Homo sapiens: one gene and its partners. The protein of the gene in region 2 interacts with the protein of the main gene of each other region in a pairwise test. Each region holds a gene or a part of one and is shown on either strand. Other genes may lie near its edges.

Evidence for each region.
Region 1: the proteins of CNTROB (region 2) and LYST interact in a two-hybrid assay, tested with the Homo sapiens proteins (one study listed by BioGRID).
Region 3: the proteins of CNTROB (region 2) and SYT6 interact in binary tests that used the Homo sapiens proteins (3 or more experiments, as listed by UniProt).

What each region holds. Positions count from the first base shown.
Region 1 is NC_000001.11:235,856,901-235,863,926, reverse strand, and holds part of LYST (lysosomal-trafficking regulator), read left to right. Parts: intron 1-5,021; exon of another isoform or gene 5,022-7,026. UniProt on the Homo sapiens protein: Adapter protein that regulates and/or fission of intracellular vesicles such as lysosomes. Might regulate trafficking of effectors involved in exocytosis.
Region 2 is NC_000017.11:7,935,206-7,942,231, reverse strand, and holds part of CNTROB (centrobin), read right to left. Parts: intron 5,995-7,026; exon of another isoform or gene 5,903-5,994; coding exon of another isoform or gene 5,867-5,902; coding exon 5,750-5,866; intron 5,532-5,749; coding exon 5,415-5,531; intron 5,069-5,414; coding exon 4,970-5,068; intron 2,720-4,969; coding exon 2,483-2,719; intron 2,137-2,482; coding exon 1,990-2,136; intron 1-1,989. UniProt on the Homo sapiens protein: Required for centriole duplication. Inhibition of centriole duplication leading to defects in cytokinesis.
Region 3 is NC_000001.11:114,136,864-114,143,889, forward strand, and holds part of SYT6 (synaptotagmin-6), read right to left. Parts: intron 3,101-7,026; coding exon 2,752-3,100; intron 1,191-2,751; coding exon 632-1,190; intron 1-631.

The sequences.
Region 1 (7,026 bases), on a different chromosome or scaffold from region 2:
AGGGTTCTTTGCTAATACTGGATTTTACAAGGAAGTGCACAGATGGGCCTCACAGAAAATTCAAAAGCCTGAGTAAGTTTGGCCAAGCAAAGAATTTTTGTCAAAGCTGAGATTATTAGTAGTAAACACAAGTGACTTTGTTTTGAAGACACTTTTTACGTTACCTTGACTATACCAGGGGGTTAAAAATTTCACCCATAAACTGCCAGCTTTGATTTCATGATTATTTTCTTCTTAATTCTTTTGGACCAACCTAGTCATTCTTTTCCCAATTGTAGTTTTATTTTTGTTTGATTGCACTCACATAGTGTGTTTGTTAGCTTCGGTTGTAGAGAGAGCCATATAGTCTGGAATTTCAGAGTACCTTTTTGGTCTGTTGCTGTATTTAACTTGAACACCTTCATCTGATTAATCTTTTCCTGAATTATCTGGTTGCCGGCTTAAGTTCAACATTTTTTTTTTTTTTAGACAGAGTCATTCTCTGGTTTCTCTTCAAATTGTATAAATCTTTCGCCTTTTACTAAAGATTTCCGTGGAGACAGAGTCTCGCTCTGTCACCCAGGCTGGAGTGTAGAGGCGAGATCTTGGTTCACTGCAACCTCCACCTCCCAGGTTCAGCCAATTCTCCTGCCTCAGCCTCCAGAGTAGCTGGGACTACAGGTGTGTGCCACCACACCCGGCTGATTTTTTGTGTTTTTAGCAGAGATGGGGTTTCACTGTGTTAGCCTGGATGATCTCAATCTCCTGACCTCATCATCTGCCCTCCTCGGCCCCCAACTGTGCCTGGATTACAGGCGTGAGCCACCGTGCTGGGCCAAGTTCAAGATTTTTTTTAAGCCCTAAAATGTTATCAAGTGTGGCTTTACTTGGCCATTTGCAAAATTACAAAGGAAATGACTCATTTTTAATACTTTGTAATGTCAAAAGACAAAATTACAACAAATTTAGCTTAAAGATCTTACTTCACCTTTGCCATTGTAGAATCAGGCAACACCTCATTTTATAAAATAGAACAAGTGTTCTCATGAGCCGAGCAGAAGTGGTTGGTTTTATGGTAGTCTCACTTTATCTTGAAGGGGTGTGTGTGTGTGTGTGTGTGTGTGTGTGTGTGTGTGTGTGTTTGTTTGTTTTGAGATGGAGACTTGCTGTGTTGCCCAGGCCAGAGTGCAGTGGGGTGATCTCAGCTTACTGCAAACTCCGGCTCCTAGGTTCAAGCGATTCTCCTGCCTCAGCCTCCTGAGTAGCTGGGACTACAGATGCCTGCCACCATGCCCGGCTAATTTTTGTAATTTTAGTAGACATGGGGTTTCACCGTGTTGCCCAGGCTGGTCTCGAACTGCTGACCTCAAGTGATCTGCCCATCTTGGCCTCCCAAAGTGCTGGGATTACAGGCATGAGCCACCGCACCCGGCCTTGGGGAGATATGTTCTAAGATCCCCAGTGGAAGCCTGAAATGGTGGATAGTACTGAATCCTATATACACTATAGGGCAGGATGAGATTTCATCATGCTACTCAGAACAGGGTGCAATTTGAAATTATGAATTATTTCTGGAATTTTCCATTTAATATTTTCAGACCACAGTTGACCTCAGGTAACTGAAACCTTGGAAAATGAATCTGCGGATAAAGGGATACTACCGTATACACTGAAAAGGGGTGAGGAAAACAGAAACAGAAAAGAAAAAGCAAATTGGTCATTTAAAGTTACTTTTCTTATTAGGGTTAAAGCAGATGGGACTTCCTTATGTCAGTCATATCATATCATATCAACTGGCCTGTTTGGGATTTGACTACTAACTCTGTCTCTCCTGATTGCTTGGAAGGTCAGATAAACAACTTAGTTTTGGCTTGGTGAAGTGGAACTTCAGCATGAGTGACTCCATTTTGATTTGATCTGTTGTCCCTAGTGCAGGAGGAACTCAGTCTAAACCAGTGACCTCCTATAAATTTCATTTAACACTGGTAAGTTAGTAATATGCAGGGATTAGCCTAATTGTTTTGTTTCAGTAAAGATGGCTTGAAATAAATGGGCCATCACATGTTAAATGAAGATCTTCTAAATCAAATTATATAGTATTTGTAGCAATAGAATTTGCCCTGTAAAACTTGGATAAAAAGTCTATCAGTCTCCGAAGCCAGGAGCCATGGCTTGTGCCTATAGTCCCAGTTACTTGGAAGACTGAGGTGGGAGGATCGCTTGAGCCTGGTTCGAGTCCAGCCTGGGCAACACAGCAACACGTCATCTCTAAACAGAACAAACAAACAAAACATATATATGTATATATCAGTCTTCTGGAATTTAAGGTCTACACTTTAAGAACCAGGAAATAAGCTAATTTTTTAAAATGGATTTTCAACCTAAATATATCTTAAAAATGTATAAAAATCTGTCAGATTAATAACTAATTATAAACTGATCTTGGAGTCTTTGAGGGCACTGTATTGTCTTTGATATTATTTTATTTTGCTGCTGTGTGTCACCAGTGTTTGGCTTTGTAACTCTTAATCCCCCAACTTTGTTTACAGTAATGAGAGAGGTCCAATACGTTTGGAAATGTTGAAGGCTTTCCAGGTCTAACTGCTGAAAAACAAAAATCTTACCTAATAACATGAAAGATTAATGCTTAAAATTGATTATCTTAATCAAGAAAGGAATCAAATAATTTTCAAAAGGCTAGTCATTGTTCCATTCAAATATGATTCTTTGAAATTAAAACATAAAATGGATGAGGACATAAGAGAGCTTTTCACTATTTTAACTGAATGGAAGAAATAAATGAACAATAGGGTAGAGTACTACACATATTAGAAATGTTTATAAAACTACTGCCACTCATCTTTAAAAAGCAATGTTTATATAACAGATTACTACTTAGCAATAACAAGGAATGAACTTTAGATCACACAACAACATGGATAAATCTCAAAATAATTACACAGCACGAAAAAAAGCCAGACCAAAAAGAAAAAAAAAGTACATACTGCATTGTTCCATCTGTAAAATTCTAGAAAATGCCTATTAATCTATAATGGAAGAAAGATCAATGCTGGCCTGGAGATAAGTTACAGAGGGAAGGGGCAGGAAAGAGGGAGAACAGTGGCATACTAGGAAACTTCAGGGGATACTAGATATGTTTACTATCTTGATTTGATGATGGTTTCATGGGTGTACACATATGTTGGAACATATCAAATTATGCACTTTAAATATGTGGTTTGTTACATGTCAGTTATACCTGTAAAGTTGTGTTTAAAAGTGGCTTGACCATGAAAAGACATGAAGAAATCTTTAGTGCATATCACTAAGTGAAAAAAGGCAAACTGAAAAGTCTGCATACTTTATGATTACAAGTGTATGGCATTCTGGGAAAGGCAAAACTATGGAGACAGTAAAAAGATTAGTGGTGGAGAGAAGGAGGGATGAATACGCAGAGCACAGAAGATTTTTAGGGCGGTGAAACTATTCTGAAGATACTACAGTGGTAGCTACATGTTATTATACATTTGTCGATACCCATAGAATATACCACATCAAGAGTGAATCCTAATGTAAACTGTGGACTTTGGGTGATAATGACCTGTCAGTGTAGGTTCATTGATTATAACAAATGTACCAGTTTAGGGGGGCTGTCCATAGTTGGGGAGGCTGTACATGTGTGAGAGAGCAGGGTGTACATGGAAACTCTGTAATTGCCTCTCTGTTTTGTTGTGAACCTAAAACTCTTCTAAAAAATAAAGTCTTTTTTTAAAAAAGAGGATAGAAGATTTCTGCCAGAAACCTGAAGAATTGCATATTTTACATTTAAAAATGGGGGGAGAGGAAGGTAAAGTCCAGAAACTATATATTGAAAATCTTGACACTGACTGATTCCTAGAAAAACTATAGACCAGCTTGCCAAGTGCTTAGTGATTTGTAATTAGAAAAGAAAGCACTGATTACTAAGACCCAGAATTTGTTTAAGAACAAGTCATATTAAGCTAACTTCATGCTTACTTTGCCAAAGATGTAATAGTATTTGTATGATACTCTTTGTATAGTACTACTTTATAACTTACAGAGTACATTCCCATTTATTATTTTATTTAACCCTGACAACATCCCTTTCAATTCGTGTAAGATGAGAAAGACCTCAACAGTAATAATCCCAGGAAGGCGCAAAGGGGACAGATGTGAGAGATTTTAGAAAGGCCTTGTGTAGTTATGGATAAAGGAGAGGGAGGAATCAAAGCAGGCTTTAAGGATTCTAGATTGTCTGAGGGTGAATGGGGATGCAGATAATTACTCGTAATTTAAAAAATACGGGTGGAGGAGTGGATTTGGAGATGTGAAATCCATCAGTTTTCTTCAGTTTGGTGGAATTAGCTGTTTTATTTCCTTTGTTGAAACTGAGTCAGATATAGATACATTTAAAAAAAAAAAAAGGCCTGGTGCTCAGGAGAGAAGCCTAAACCCAATAAAACAATTTTCATTTGTTCAGTAAATATATTCTTTCAAATACTTTTGGTAATGAAGGGAGGTTAGTGGGTAGAAGCTTGAGGAAGTAGATGTGATCATTGGGAAGGTTTGTCTGTTTTAAGGATGGAGAAGCCAAGGACACTTCAGTGGATTGAGGGAAAGGGACCATTGAAGAGGAAGAAAATTGAAGTCACAAGAGGTAGAAGATAATTGATCAAATGTAACGAGAGGAAATGGAAGAGTCAGGTCCAGGAGGACAAATGAAAGAGTTACCCTGAAGAAGAGGAATGATGTATCTTCCTGTTTAAAAACGAAAAGGAAATGGGGTAGATATAGATATAAGTTAGTATCCAGGATGACATCTCTTTTTCTCTGTGAAGCAAGATTATCTGCTGAGATTGAGAAGGAAGAACATGGGTTGGAGTATGCTTGAGGGGAAAATAAAAGTTACTATTGAGATTGTAAAAGGGACTTAACTAGGGGCATGTGACTTCTTTGCTGAATCATGATGAATACCCTTCCAGGCTTGAAATCACAAATGTACAGAGGCCAGCAGGATGGTTAAGCAGTGTTCTCCAGCAGCCTGCCTGCTCCCACTCCCCTTCCCTGCCCCCCATAACAATGCAGAAAACAAATAGACTGAACTTGGACCACTCCCCTTCCCCACCCCCATAACAATGCAGAAAACAAGTAGACTGAACCTGGATTGAGATTGGAAGGGAAGATGTGATGGAAAACTTGAGTAGGGGGTAGTGGGAAGTCAAGGAATAGAGAGTGGTAATGAGGCTGCTAATTGAAGGGTTGAGCCATAGGAATCCTGCTTATTAAGGAACAAAGCCAAGCCAAGACAAGGCTGGTAAATGTGGATAATGAAGAGGATGAAGAATCTAAATGAGTCAAGTGCAGGATTAATGGAAATAAAAGAGTACTAGAGATGGAAAAATTGGCACATAGATGTGAGAATTCTCAATTTAAGATTCTGGAGTTAGCAGTTTCAGGTGATGATAAGGGCCAAAGAATGACCAATGATGGGTGGATAGCCAAGATTAATAGTGCTAATTATAACAATATTAATATTAATAAAAACTACTATTCATTGAACACTGTGTAGTAGTCACTATAGTAAATATTTTCCATAGGTTATCATGCTTATGTTTCACATATTAGTATCAACATTTTACAGATGAGGAAACTGGAGCTCAGTGAGATTGAGTAACTTTTCCCAAGACTCACAGCTACGAAGTACCTGAGTCTTTCTGAGTCCTTCTAGCATTGAAGCACTTATGCCTGACTACTAAACCATGCTAGCCTTCTGCAAAGTAGGGGTCATTGAAGAAGAAGGCAAAGAGCATTAAGTCTTGTGTGTTGGAATCAATTGTTCTTATGGATAATGAAGTCCCCAGAATATATAGCTTCTGTGTGGAAAGGAAGATAGTCATACGACAAAATTCTCAGTAAATGGAGATGGCTGACTCAAAGGTCAGTAGGTGACAACTATAAATATAGCTATAATGTAATCTTAAAAGTGGATAAAATCGAATAACAATGACTTACAAGTCATCTTGGGAAACTAGGAGAATACTGACTTGTCTTCCTGGCCCCCAAAGTGATGCATATGAAAATATTAACCATTCATTTCTTAACCCTCTCTTCTCTCTTGGCTTGTGAAATTTTATATATATATGTGTGTGTGTGTGTGTGTGTGTGTGTGTGTGTGTGTGTGTGTATTTACATATGTTTGTGTATATATACGTGTGTGTGTGTATATATATACACCTGTGTGCACACGCGCACACACACCCACAGACACACCCCCCTCTTTTTTGGTTTTCCTCGTACCCCTCTAACCACTCCTCTTCAGTCTCATTGGCTGGATTCTTCTTTGCCAGCTCCTTCATGTTGGTGAGCCTCTGGATTCTCTCCTCCTCCTCATTTCTCTTTCTTTGTGCTTTCCTTTGATGATCTCATCTATTTCTAAGCTTTCATATACCACCTATATGTTAATGACTTCTGAATGTTCATCTAGAGATGAATCTAGAACTTTCTTCAAATCCCAACATCCTTATATAGGAAGATGTACCCAGAAGAAATAGCCCATGATATTTCAGGGCAATATCATGTGACTAGAGAAAGTCATCTTAGGCTAGTAATCTCCACTCATGCCCATCTAGTTGAGGGCTCAATTCACTTATTTTCAACATCCACAACCATTTCTAAGGTGATAGCTTCTCTGGTTACTTATCACTGGTATGACCAAACATCTTGATTTGCCTAAGATGGCTCTGGTTTATGCCTATTGTTCAAGACCAACCTGGCCAACATGGTGAAACCCCATCTCTACTAAAAATACAAAAAATTAGCTAGGTGTGGTGACGCACACCTGTAATCCCAGCTACTGAGGAGGCTGAGGCATGAGAATCGCTTGAACCTAGGAGGTGGAGGCTGCAGTGAGCCGAGATCGCACCACTGCATTCCAGCCTGGGCGACAAGAGTGAGATTTCATCTCAAAAAAAAAAAAAAAAAAAAAATCAGTATATCCTGTGTAACTTGTAAGAGCTGCTTATATCC
Region 2 (7,026 bases):
GCAGTGGTGTGATCATGGCTCACTGCAGTCTTGACCTCCCAGACTCAAGAGATCCTCCCACCTCAGCCTCCAGAGTAGCTGGGACTACAAGCTGGTGCCACAACACCCAGCTAATATTTTTATTTTTTGTAGAGATGGGGTCTCATTATGTTGCCCAGACTGGTCTCAAACTCTTGGACTCAAGCAATCCTCCCACTTCAGCCTCCCAAAGTGCTGGGATTACAGGCGTGAGCCACCACACCTGGCCCTTTCTGTCTTTTTTTTTTTTGAGACTCGGTCTCGCTCCTGTCACCCAGGCTGGAGTGCAGTGGTGTGATCACGGGTCACTGCAGCCTCTACTTCCAGGGTTCAGTTGATCCTCCCACCTCAGCCTCCCGAGTAGCTGGGACTACAGGTGCATGCCACTATACCCGGCTAAGTTTTTGTATTTTTAGCAGAGTTTAGGTACTGCCATATTGCGCCCAGGTTGGTCTTGAACTCCTGGGCTCAAGCAATCTGCCCGTTTCGGCCTCCCAAAGTGCTGGGATTCCAGGTGCGAGCCACCACACCCGGATGCTTTCTTAGTCTTTATCGCATGTGATCTCATTGTAACACCTGAAGCCCTAGGTCAATTCTTTTTTTTTTTTTTTTTTTGAGATGGAGTCTCACTCTGTTGCCCAGGCTGGAGTACACTGGTTCAATCTGGGCTCACTGCAACCTCCACCTCCCGGGTTCAAGCGATTCTCCTGCCTCGGCCTTCTTAGTAGCCGGGACTACAGGTGTGCACCATACACCTGGATAATTTTTGTATTTTTAGTAGAGACAGGGTTTCACCATGTTGGCCGGGCTGGTCTCAAACTCCTGGGCTCAAGTGATCCACCCGCCTTGGCCTCCCACAGTGCTGGGATTACAGGCATGAGCCACCATACCGGGCCAAAGGATTGTGGTTCTCAAATGCTGGCCTCACTGGTACCTCCTTAAGTTAACCATTTATAAGGAACATAGCCTCTCAGACTGGCTTGCACCTGGAAAATTCATCAATTTGTCCTTACACATTTTATACATAAAAACAGAGGCCCATAAAGGTCAAAATTCTAGCTAGAAGTAGACGTAAGTGCCCTAAGTCCTAATGCAATACTCTTTCCTCTTCAACGCTGTGTCTCCCCCATGGGCTGGAACACAGCTCTCTCCAATCCTTTCCTCTATTCTGGAGATCGGCGAACTACAGCCCAATTCAGCCCTCCATTGCCTGTTTAGATAAGTTGTACTAGAACACAGCTGTGCCCATTTGTTTACGTACAGTTTATAGCTACTTCTGTGGTATAACAGCAGAGTTGGGTAGTTGCAACTGAGACCATACAACCCACAAAGCTAAAAATATTTACTGTCTGGCCCTTTACAGAAAAAGTTCGCCAACTCCTGCTCTATTCCATGGCAAGAGTCCGACTAGTTTGAATTTAAAATTCAGTGTGTTAGCTAGATGGAAAGAGTTTTTCAAAGTGTAATTATATCTGACAAACAATTTTTGAGTACAATTCTGTGCCAGGCCATGTGCTGTTATGGAAGTTTCATAAGTAAATTAAAAAATCATTGCCCTCCTGGGTCCCTGACCTACTCAGAGAAATTAATACAAGTTATTCAAGTAATGAGAATTACAAAGCACACTGTTACAATTGGAATCAAGTCTCTGACAAAAGCTTTCACCTGCTCTGTCAACCCACTAAGTGTGGTGTCATCTCTTAAAATAACATAAGGTATCTTTAATAGATTTAAATCTATTTAATCCTAAAAGTAACACTAGGTCAGTCTGACATATTGTGGGAAATGGTCACTCAGTAAGAAATAGCTCTGAGTTTAGGACAGAAAACTACCCATACTACATAGAAACTGTTAATGGAATTAAACCCCAAACACCTGAACTGGGAGTGTCTGCCACAACTCCTGAGAGGTCCCTCTGCCTCAGATCTACTTCTGTCAGAACAAAACCTCAAGAAACCTCTGCCTTCTGACCTGCACCAAGCTCATTTCCAGCTGCAGGGCATCTCTCTCTCTCCGAGCTGTATCCAGCTCTCCTTCCAGCCGCCGCACCTCAGACTGCACCAATGCCAACTGGTGCTGGGTCTCCCAGGCGGCCTGGGCTTCCCTCTGGCTCTTCTCCTATGAAAGACAAATCAAATGTATATACATACCTCATTTCTTATCTCCTGGTTACCTACACTCCCCAGTTCATCCTCCCAAACCCTAAAATCCAAGCTTCCCCCAGCTCCTCCCATTTGTTTTATTTCCCCATCCCTGTTGAATTTCAGTCTTTGGCCTTTCACGTATTCATTACCCCCAGCCCTTCCTGCTGGCCCTATACTCTCAACCTTGTCTCCCACACATGGCTCTCTACTCTCCATTCCTGCCTATATGTATCCCCCATATTCTAACATTCCATCCCATTCAATTATTTTGCCCTTCATCTACTCCCTAGTTCCTCAGCTCTTCCAACTGCCACTTTTACCTTCTCCCTTTCCAGCTGAGCCTGGCTCTCCTCCTGCAGCGCCTGGTAGTGTTCCTTAAGCTGGTGCTCTTGCTGGGCCCAGGTCTGCCGTTCTTCTTCTAGGGCAGCCCGAAGAGTCTCCAACTCTCGATGCTCACTCAGTTGCCCAGCCCGAGCTGCATCCCGCTCTTCCTGCAGGACACAGCACCGCTGCTGTTCTGCCTCCAACCTCAGAGTCAGAGCTTGCCTTTCCTCCTCCTACAGCCGCAGAAGAAAACCAAGCTCCTTAGTAGGCTCTTCAGAGACCAGCGATCTGCCCTCTGACCCTCATACAAGGTGCCTGCTGAGAATTATGCTCATTAAAAACACAATAATTAGGCCGGGTGCGGTGGCTCACACCTGTAATCCCAGCATTTTGGGAGGCCAAGGCAGGCAGATTACCTGAGGTCAGGAGTTTGAGACCAGCCTGGTCCAACATGGTGAAACCCCATCTCTACTAAAAATACAAAAATTAGCCAGGCGTGGTGGTGGGTGCCTGTAATTCCAGCTACTTGGGAGGCAAAGGCAGGAGAATCGCTCTAACCTGGGAGGTGGAGGTTGCAGTGAGCTGGGATCACACAACTGCACTCCAGCCTAGGCGACATCGAGCAAGACTCCATCTCAAATAAAACCAAAAGAAACCCCACAATAGTTGACAGGCGCAGTGGCTCATGCCTGTAATCCCAGCACTTTGGGAGGCTGAGGCAGGCAGATCATCTGAGGTCAGGAGTTTGGGACCAGCCTGGCCAACATGGTGAAACCATGTCTCTACTAAAAATATAAAAATTAGCTGGGCATGGTGGTGCACACCTGTATTCCCAGCTACTCAGGAGGCTGAGGCAGGAGAATTGCTTGAACCTGGGAGGCGGAGGTTGCAGTGAGCCAAGATTGTGCCACTGAACCCTAGCCTGGGCAACAGAGCGAGACTCCATCTCAAAACAAACAAACACAATAGTTGACAAGCTCATAGGATTATAATATAGTAGATAAGAGTTCCTGTTCCAGAGCCAGGTAGACCTGGGTTCAAATCTCAGGTTCGAATCCTGGTTCTGGAATTTACTATGTGTTCTTAGGCATACATTCTTATCTGTAAACTGGAGATCATAACAGGGTCTGCCTTCTGAGCATTAAAGTAAAAAGCATATGTAAGGCATTTAGCACGGCATCAGGCACATAGTAAGTACTCAATACACAATAGTTACCACCATCATCGTCAAAAGAAATTCCACTAAGACTAGAATATCCAGCCTATAATCGTGAACCATCACCCATCATCATCAGGACTGTCAGATATAGCCTGTTAAGACTACAAGTACCAGCATGCATGTAGCAAGCATGCATTATGCATGCAACAAGTTCCAATCCCAGCTACTAATTCATATGGCTAATCACCTTATCATTTCAGCTCTAAGAGACTTGAGTGAAGTGGCTGGGTATGGTGGCTTATGCCTGTAATCCCAGCACTTTGGGAGGCCAAGGCGGGCAGATCACTTGAGGTCAGGAGTTTGAGACCAGCCTGGCCAACATGGCGAAACCCCGTCTCTACCAAAAAAATACAAAAATTAGCTAGGCGTGGTGGTATACGCCTGTAGTCCCAGCTACTTGGGAGGCTAAGGTGGGAGAATCGCTAGAATCCAGGGGGCAGAGGCTGCAGTGAGCTGAGATTGTGCCACTGCACTCCAGCCTGGACAACAGAGCGCGACCCTGTCTCAAAAAAAAAAAAAAAAAAACACGAAAAGAAACTTGAGTTAGTCAATTTCATACCTTTTTTGGCCATGCCCTACACCAGAGGTCCCAAACCAGATTGAAAAAAATCACCCAGGAAATTTCTGAAAAGATTTGAGTTCCACCATATATCTACTGAATCAAAACCTCTGCAGGTGAGTCCCAGAAATCTTTATTTTATTTTATTTTTTATTTTTATTTTTTGAGATGGAGTCTCACTCTGTCACCCAGGCTGGAGTGCAGTGGCTTGATCTCAGCTCACTGCAACCTCTGCCTGCTGGGTTCAAGCAATTCTCCTGCCTCAGCCTCCCAAGTCGCTGGGACTACAGGCATGCACCACCATGTCCAGCTAGTTTTTTGTATTTTTAGTAGAGACGGGGTTTCACCATGCTGGCCAGGCTGGTCTCAAACTCCTGACCTCATGATCTGCCTGCCTTGGCCTCCCAAAGTGCTGGGATTACAGGGGTGAGCCACCGTGCCTAGCCTATATTTTAAAATAATTCTTCAGATGACACTAATATTCTAATGATGATACAATTTGCAGAGTTTCTCAAACCGACTTGGTAGCAGAGCCTTTTTTTTTAATAGAATATCTAGCTGAATTAGTGTTCTAAGGAACACACTTTGGGAAACAGTGCTCTGGTGCAACTCAAATTATAATCTCCCACAATCCACCAATAGCCCACAGCTCTCTAGAAGTAATTAACAGCTTCCAGTGGAATTAACCCAGTCCAATCTTCTCACCAGTGTCTCTCTTTCCCGTTGCTGCAGTCTGGCACTTTCCTGCTCACGATTCAGGGCCTCCATGGCCTCAGAAAGGCTTTGTTCCAGGCGGGTTACTGTCTTTCAGGAAGAGAGGAATACAGGGCAGAGGAACTGTGGGAAATCTGTGTGTGCTATATTTTATAAAGCATTGACAATGTAAACTTGAAACTTCACAGTTAACTAAATGACTAAGGGGCCAGATAGAAGACTACATGGTGTGGGAAAAATTAAGACATTGATGATTCAAGTTGGACAGCAGAAACGGTTAAAGGAGAAGAAAGGAGGGATGAGAAGAAATGTCAGGACAGCCACTACAAGACTGAGGTCAATCTGTTGGAAACCCTAATTCCAGAGCTATTTCTGCCCCTTTCCATCTTGAGATCTGTGACTCAGGTTCTAATGCCATATGCTCCAGGGCGCTCACCTCCTGCTGCTTGCTTCTGGTGAGCTCTGCTGCCTGGTGTTCCTCTTGAAGTCCCCTGAGAACCTCTGTCCGCTCAGCCTCATGCCGGTTCCAGCCCTCCACCACACGGGCCAGGGTCTTAGGTAGGGCAAGTAAGATGAAATTTCAAAATAACTTTTTTGCCTCTTTCTACCCACAGGGGCAGGGTCAACAGCCATCTTCTCCCAACAGTCAGCAAACCAACCCCTTGCCCAGCTCTCAGCATGTACCAAGAAACATTGGTTGGCCACCCACTTATTTATTATTCCTTAATGCTCTTCATGGAGAGACCCACCCACATTTTGCTACCCTGGTACCTTGTCCAGTTGTTCAATCATGGTATCTTTCTTGCGGTCGGCAGCCACAGCCACGGCTAATTGTTGCTGTAGCTCTAACACTCGGGTCTGCAGGCTCTGAATATGGCGCTCACAATGCTGGGGAAAAGGGTGAGGAGTCTGGGTGTTGCCCATCTTTGGTATGACCACAGCACCAAACTTTCCAGCTCCTCTAGTGGGGGAGTGGGCTGGAGCCAAGAAGCTTGGGTCCCAAGAACAGAATAGGTCTGGAGAGGGAGAATCAGGAAAATTCTGAAGCAAGCACCTTGAGGCTCAAGATCTCCAACATGTTTCTGTACCTTTTCAGGAGATAAGTGCTTAGATTCCAGGCTCCTCCTTTTCCTGGATCTCCTGAGTAAAAATCCCATAAACCTTTTGGCAGAGATGCAGCAGCCCACACAGCAAAATGTGCAAAGTTACTCCTACCTTCAGAAGCTCATTGGACACAATGAATAAACACAGCAAGGATAAAGGGGAAAGCCTTTCATTCATGCCAAGGGGTTTAACATGGAGAAAGAGAGGCTTCCAAAAATGGCAACCAGTGATTTTGACTTTTCCTCTCCTTTGTCTATTTCTCTGTCCCCTTCAGACACTAAGGCAGAGGCTCACAGAGATAAAGCTCAGTATATCACCAGTAGCTGTAAATCCTGTGCACAAGCTAGCAGAGTTTGTGTCCATTCGACAAACACAGAGTGTTTCTGTGTTATGTATATTCTAGACCTTAGGCAGCCAGTACTAAGACAAACAAGATACGGACCCTCAAATTTTAGAGAGGAGAAAAAAACAAGATATATCAGAACGATAAGCTACATGAAAGAAATAAGAAGGCGATCTGACTACTTGGAAAGGAGGTGGTGCCATATTAGATGGAATGGTCAAAAAAGCCCTCCTCAGAAAAACATTTAAGTCCCAGCTTTCAGGCTCTTAACCCTCAGCCCTTTTCTTTTTTAGTTTTTTTTTTTTGAGACGGAGTCTCGCTCTGTCGCCCAGGCTGGAGTGCAGCGGCATGATCTCGGCTCACTGCAAGCTCCGCCTCCCAGGTTCACGCCATTCTCCTGCCTCAGCCTCCCGAGTAGCTGGGACTACAGGCACCCACCACCATGCCCGGCTAATTTTTTCTATTTTTAGTAGAGACGGGTTTCACCGTGTTAGCCAGGATGGTCTCGATCTCCTGACCTCGTGATCCGCCTGCCTCAGCCTCCCAAAGTGCTGTGATTACAGGCGTGAGCCACCACGCCAGGCCCCCTCAGCCCTTTTCA
Region 3 (7,026 bases), on a different chromosome or scaffold from region 2:
TGATATTAGGAGTTACCGCGTGTCTTGTTCTAATGGGAGTGGAAGTGACATGTGTCACTTCTGCGTGGAAGTTTTAATAAACAGTGCGTGATTTGCCACTTCCTCTTCCTCCTGATGTTTAACTGTGGGGGCCCGTGTCTAAATGCAGCCTCTGTTGGCTTGGGTCCCCAGGTAACAAGGTGGAGCAGAGTCCCCAGTCCAGCTGCAAAGCACATGAAACATGAACAAGGCATAAACTTTGGTTGTCTAAAGCCACAAAATCCTCGGACTGTTTGCTGCTGCAGCATAGCCTAGTTCAGTCTGATTGATATGGCCTGTTTCAATTGCCTATGCCAAGTTTCTAATGCACATCAGTACTCTCAGTAGAAAGAACCACCCCAGAACATGCAACCAGAAGCCACAGATAAAAATTCCCTTCCCTTCCTAGCTACATGGGGACTCTGCTCTCTGCCATCCCAACCTGGGGCAGAGTGCAAGGGTAGACTGGGCCACTGGGCAGTTTCCAGAGTCCCTCTTCACATCCCAAATGGCAAAGGCCCATTTGTCTCTAGGAAGTGAGGGTTTGGGGACATGTCCCACCCAACCCAGAACCACAAATCCTCAAGAAGCCAAGGAACAGGGCTGTACTTACACTTGTGGCATATTGGATATCCTTCCAGATGGAGGTTTCCCGAGACAGGTCAGAGGCCTCAAAGAGGTTGTCCAGGATGACCTCGCCAATCATGTCATGGCGGGAGAAGCGGTCAAAGTCGAAGACACTGAGATGCAGCTTGCGGTCAGCCAGCTCCTCATAGGGCACAGGGAAGTGGAAGTTCTCATCAAAGGTGGGGTTCAGGGTCTTGCGGTGCACCCGGGTCTGCAGCTTGCATTTGCGGTCAGGCAGGAGGTAGATCTTGACATAAGGGTCAGAGCTTCCACAAAAGTCCTTGGCAGGGAGGTCAAAAGCCTTCAGGATACGCACAATCAGGGTCTCGGTCTCGTAATCGTAGCGTAGGCTGAAGTTGATCTTCCCGCAGCTCTTGGTGGCCTCAGACTTGGCATCCTCCCCATCCACCGACTTCTGCTTGTAGAGCTCAGGCTTGATGCGGCCAATGCTGGTGGGCTGCTCTGCTGCTGGTGGAAGCTCATTGCCATAGTCTACACTGGAGACATGCATCTGCCTTGGCAGGTGGCGCTTGAAGGACGTGTGCCTGGTAGAGGGCAGGAGGGGGCAGAGGGAGTGTGGTCAGGGCTCAGGGGAAGGGGGATGAAGGCAAACACGAGCCTGGAGGCCCTGGCTCATCTTATCCCTTGTTGAGCCCCCTTTTCCTTCCTCTTCTTGACCCCACTTTTGCTCTGCATACACTTTGTGTGCAAGGTTGTGGTGAGCATTACATGTCTTAATATATGTAAAGTAGTTGGAATGGTGCCTGATATATAGTAAGCTCAATAAACTTTAGCCATTGTTATCATAATCACTTTTTCCTGCTTTTCTGTTACCTGCTTTCTAGGTTTACTTCCTAGTAGACATGACTCTGGTTTCCTTATTAAATCATGAGATTCCTTAAGAGAAGGACCATCCCTTCTTATCCTCAATGTGGCACCCACTTCATCACCATCATCACCATCACCATTTGTTAAGCATTTGCTATACGGCAGGCAGCAGAGTGGTAAAAGCATGGGCTTTGGAGTTAGCCTGCATAGGTTAATTTTGGCTCTGTCACTTTCTAGCTGAGATCTTGGGAAAGTTATTTAACCTCTCTGTGCCATAAAAACGAGGATAATAAAAGTAACAGCTGCATAGGATTGCTGTGAAATGAATTGATTACATATGAAGTGCTTAGAATAGAGCCAAGCATAATCATAAGCAATATATGTGTTAGCTCTCCTTATCAATCACATTGATTCTTCCATTGGCTCCTCACAACTGCCATATAAAAGTCATCAGCCTTATTTTACAGTTGGAAAAAGTGAGTCTAAGGGAAGGTGAGGAACTTGCCCAAGGCCATATGACAGACTGTCAGTGTGACCTCCCAGCATGTTCATTCCTGGCCTCCAGTCTGAAGACCAGGCCTCGTTCTCTTTTGTTGGTCCCCTGAGGGCCTGGAGAGCCGTTGCAGGGACCTAGGAGTCCATCAGAGCCCTAAGTTTTGAGTAAATACAATGCCTTACGCATGCTTGCACCACATCTTTTAAAAGTGCTTCTGAATTTAGGGTAGGTTTTTGTCGTTATGTTTTTCTTGTTGCTATTTTCAGTTAAAGGATGCTGTATGTATTTACAGTTGTTGTCATGCAGGGAACTCTGAAAGGCTTTAAAGGAATCCTGATTCTCAAACTATTAAGATTCCCTTGCCTTATCTGCCATGTACTGCAGACTGTAGCTATCAGGCTTTACTGACATATCCCTAAACACACCATGAACTCTTACATCTCTAGGCCTTTACTGTTCTCTTCCTTCTGCCTGAAGTCTTTCCTTCCAAACATCCAACACTCCCCTATTCCACTATTCCATTCCCCTCACACCCACACACACCCCAAGTGCAAACCACATATACAGCAACCCGCCTCAAAGGTTTCCCTTTCATGAAGTCTTTCCTGGTGCCCACCTCCTCATTGATCACCCATCATGGCTCACATCATCTGACATATTTGTCAATCAAAGGATATGTGTTATTATTTCTGGTCTGTGATCCCCACAGGCTGGAATCCCATAGATGTATTAAGGGAGTGTGGAGGTGTGGGGGTCAGGGAAGGGAGTGGTCCACTCCTCACCTGGTGGATGACGCTGGCTCTGTAGTTTGCCGCTGCAGCCGGGTGTGACGCATGATGTGCTCCTTGACCGACATCTGCACCTCAGCTGGGATATCTGGGGACGTGTGGCTGATCTTCACGGCCGCCTCCAGGAAGCCCAGGGTGCTGGGGTCCTTCAGCTTGTCCGCCATGTTGCCTCTGAAGCTGGGGCTCTGGAGGGCTTCCAAGGGGGGATTAGCAGAAGAGGGACTGGAGGCCTCCTTGTTCCTCCAGGGCATCCAGCACAGCTTCCAAAAGAGAAAGAGAAAAACTGCCACCAGGGCCACGCCACACACAATAACTACAACTGCGAGGAGGCTGACAGAGGTGCCTGCCCTCGGCATGAGCCAGGCAGGGAGGGACAGACAGACAGAGGCGGGGAGAAGCGGGTGAGGGTGTTGGAGGAGGGGGCACACGGAAGGGACAAAGACGGAAGAAGAGAGAAGAATGGTCATGAGAAAGCTGCCAGGTCAGAGGGAGAGGTGGTTTCAGGGTTGACTCTTGATTGTCCACTTGGTGGAGTATGTACAGCCTTGTGTTCACCTCAATCTGATTCTTCCAGCATCATCCTCTCTCCCGCCCCCACCCCTATCCCCCCAGCCAGCTTGGGGAGCACCTGGGCTGTCCTCTCTACTGGCTATTGGCACGTGCACAGGGAAATGAAAATAATTTAAATAGCAGCCTAAGCAAATGTGCAAATTTGTGAAGGATTCATGTTGAGATGCTGTTTGAATTTCTATTAAAGCTGCTACTATGGCCAGACTTAGAGTCATTTTTGTCTACAGCCCACTTCCTTAACAGGGTGTGATACCTTGGGGGGCAGAGGCTGGCTAACTCATCCTCTTTTCTTCTTTATCCCATCCCCACTGAGCCCAAGACAGGAACTCAATAAACATTGAGTTGACTTCAAGTGAATGAGATTGAGCATAATCTCTTTAAGGGCAAGGATTATGTTCTTCTGTACTCCCAGAACTCTGTGCATAGTAGGCTCAATAAATACTTCTATTAAGTTGGAATCTGATCTACACAGTGCACTTCAAAGCTAAATAGAGGCACACTTCATTTTGCTATGCTTCACTTTATTGTGCTTCACAGATCCTGTATTTTTTACAAATTGAAGATTTGTGGCCACCCTGCCTTGAACAAGTCTTTCTGTGCCAGTTTTCCAACAGCATGTGCACATTTTGTGTCTGTCACGTTTTGTTAATTCTCACATTATTTCAAACTTTTAAATTACTATTATGGTTGTTATGGTGATCTATGATCTGTGATCAGTGATCTTGGATATTCCTATCGTCATTGTTTTGAGGCGTCCTGAGCTGCATCCATGTAAGATGGCCAACCTAATTGATAAATGTTGTGTGTGTTCTGGCTGCTCCCCTGGCTGGCCATTCCTCTCCTTAGGCCTCTCTATTTGCTGAGGCACAACAATATTGAAATTAGGCCAATTGATAACCTTACTTTGACTTCTAAGTGTTCAGGTCAAAGAAAGTGTCACATGACTCTCATTTTAAATCAAAAGCTAGAAATAATGAAGCTTAGTGAGGATGGCATATCAAAAGCCAAGACAGGCCAAAAGCGAGGCATTTTGTGCCTCACAGCCAAGTTGTGAATGCAAAGAAAAAGATCTTAAAGGAAATCAGAAGTGTTACTCCAGCAAACACACAAATGATAAGAAAGCAAAACAGTCTTATTGCTGATGTGAAGAGAGCTTTAGTGGTCTGGACAGAAGATCAAACCAGCCCCAACATTCTCTTAAGCCAAAGCCTAATCCAGAGCAAGACAGTACCTTTCTTTCATTCTATGAAGACTGAAAAAGGAGAGGAAGCTGCAGAAGAAACGTTTGAATCTAGCAGAGGTTGGTTCTTGAGGTTTAAGGAAAGAAGTCCTCTCCATAATGCAAAAGTTCAAAGATGAAGCAGCAAGTGCTGATGTAGAAACTGCAGTAAGTGATTCAGAAGATCTAACTAAGATAATTGATGAAGGTGACTACACTAAACAACACATTTTCAGAGTAGAAGAAATAGCCTTATATTGGAAGAAGATGCCACCTAGGGCTTTCATAGCTAGAAAGGGGAAGTCAATGCCTGGCTTCAAAATTTCAAAGGACAGGCTGACTCTCTTTTTAGGGGCTAACACAGCTGATGACTTTAAGATGAACCCAGTGCTTATTTACCATTCCAAAAATCCTACGGCCCTTAAGAATTATGCTCAATCTACTCTGCCTATGCTCTAAAAATGGAAAAACAAAACCTGGATAATAGCATATCTGTTTAAGAATGGTTTACTGAATATTTTAAGCCCACTGTTGAGACTTACTGCTCAGAAGAAATGATTCCTTTCAAAATATTACTGCTCATTGACTATGCACCTAGTCACCCAAAGGCTCTGATGCAGATGTACAAGGAGATAAATGTTGTTTTCATGCCAGCTAAAACAACGTCCATTCTGCAGCCCATGGATCAAGGAGTAATTTCAACTTTCAAATCTTAGGCTTTAGCTGTCATAGACAGTGATTCCTCTGATGGATCTGGGCAAAGTAAATTGAAAACTGTCTGAATAGGATTCACCATTCTTGATGCCATTAAGAACATTCATAATTCAGGGGAAAAGGTCAAAATATCAACATTAACTGAAATTTAAAAGAAGTTGATTCCAAACATCGTGAATGGCTTTGAGGGGTTCAAGACCTCAGTGAAGGAAATAACTGCAGATGTGGTGGAAATAGCAAGAGAACCAGAATTAGAAGTGGAGCCTGAAGAATGGATGAGGAGTTGCTTCTTGTGGATGAGTAAATAAATTGTGGATGAGTAAATATTTTATCTTCTTGAGATAAAATATACTCCAGGTAAAGATGCTGTGAACATTGCTGAAATGACCACAAAGGACTTAGAATATTACATAACCTTAGTTGATAAAGCAGTGGCAGGGGTTGAGAGGATTGACTCCAATTTTGAAAGAAGTTCTACTATGGATAAAATGCTATCAGACAGCGGTGCATGCTACAGAGATATCTTTAGTGAAAGGAAAAGTCCATTGACGCAGCAAACTCACCGTTGTCTTATTTTAAGAAATTGCCACAGCCACTCCAGCCACCAGCAACCACCAAACTGGTCAGTCAGCAGCCATCAACATCGAAGCAAGACCCTCCACCAGCAAAAAGAGATTAAGACTCACTGAAGGCTCATTTTTAGCAATTTAGCATTTTTTAGCAATCAAGCTTTTAAAATTAAGGTGTATATATTGTTTTTGGGTGTAATTTTATTGCACACTTAATAGGCTACAGTATATTTTACACTGTATATGTGTATATATATAGGTAAATATATTACAATGTATACTTTTTGTAAGGCTTTAGCTGCCATGGATAGTGATTCCTCTGATGGATCTGGGCAAAGTAAATTGAAAACCATATGAATAGGATTCACCATTCTTGATGCCATTATATTTACAGTATATTACAGTATATTTTATACTGTGTGTATATGTATATATTCACATATATGTATATATACATATATGTATATACTGTATACACTTAATAGACTACAGTATATTTTATACTATATATATTTTATTTAATTCTATTGTGCTATTCTAATAATTCTATTTCTTTTTATAAAATATACTTTAGTCTATTAAGTGTACAATAGAATTACACAAAGTTATATATATGTTTACATGTGTACATATATAAATTACATATACTTATATGTATAAAAGTTTTAGATACATATATGTATATATAGTATAAAAGTAGTATAGTATAAAAGTTATGTGTGTATATATACATATATAGTATAAAAGTAGCACAGTTTAAAAGTTATATATATCTATATATACATACATACATATGTATATATGTATAAGTTATATATAACTTATATGTGTATATATACATATAAGTTATATATAACTTATGTGCATGTGTGTGTGTGTGTGTATATATATATAACTTTTATATGCACTGGGAAACCAAAAAATTTGTGTGACTTGCTTTATTTTGATATGTGCTTTATTGCAGTAGTCTGTAACTGAACCTACAATATCTCCAAGGTATTTGTGTACAAATGATTCCTAGAGCTGTCCTCCTCCATTCCTGTGGCTATTCAAGAGCTTTGCTGTAAAACTGGTATTTTAAATGTTGTGATTGGTTTGGAGGTGGGCTCTCACTCCCCCACCCCCAGCCCACCCCTGACCCCAGGGATGCCCATTATCCCAAGAAAGGGGTATGCCCCTATGAGGGATGCCCCTCTT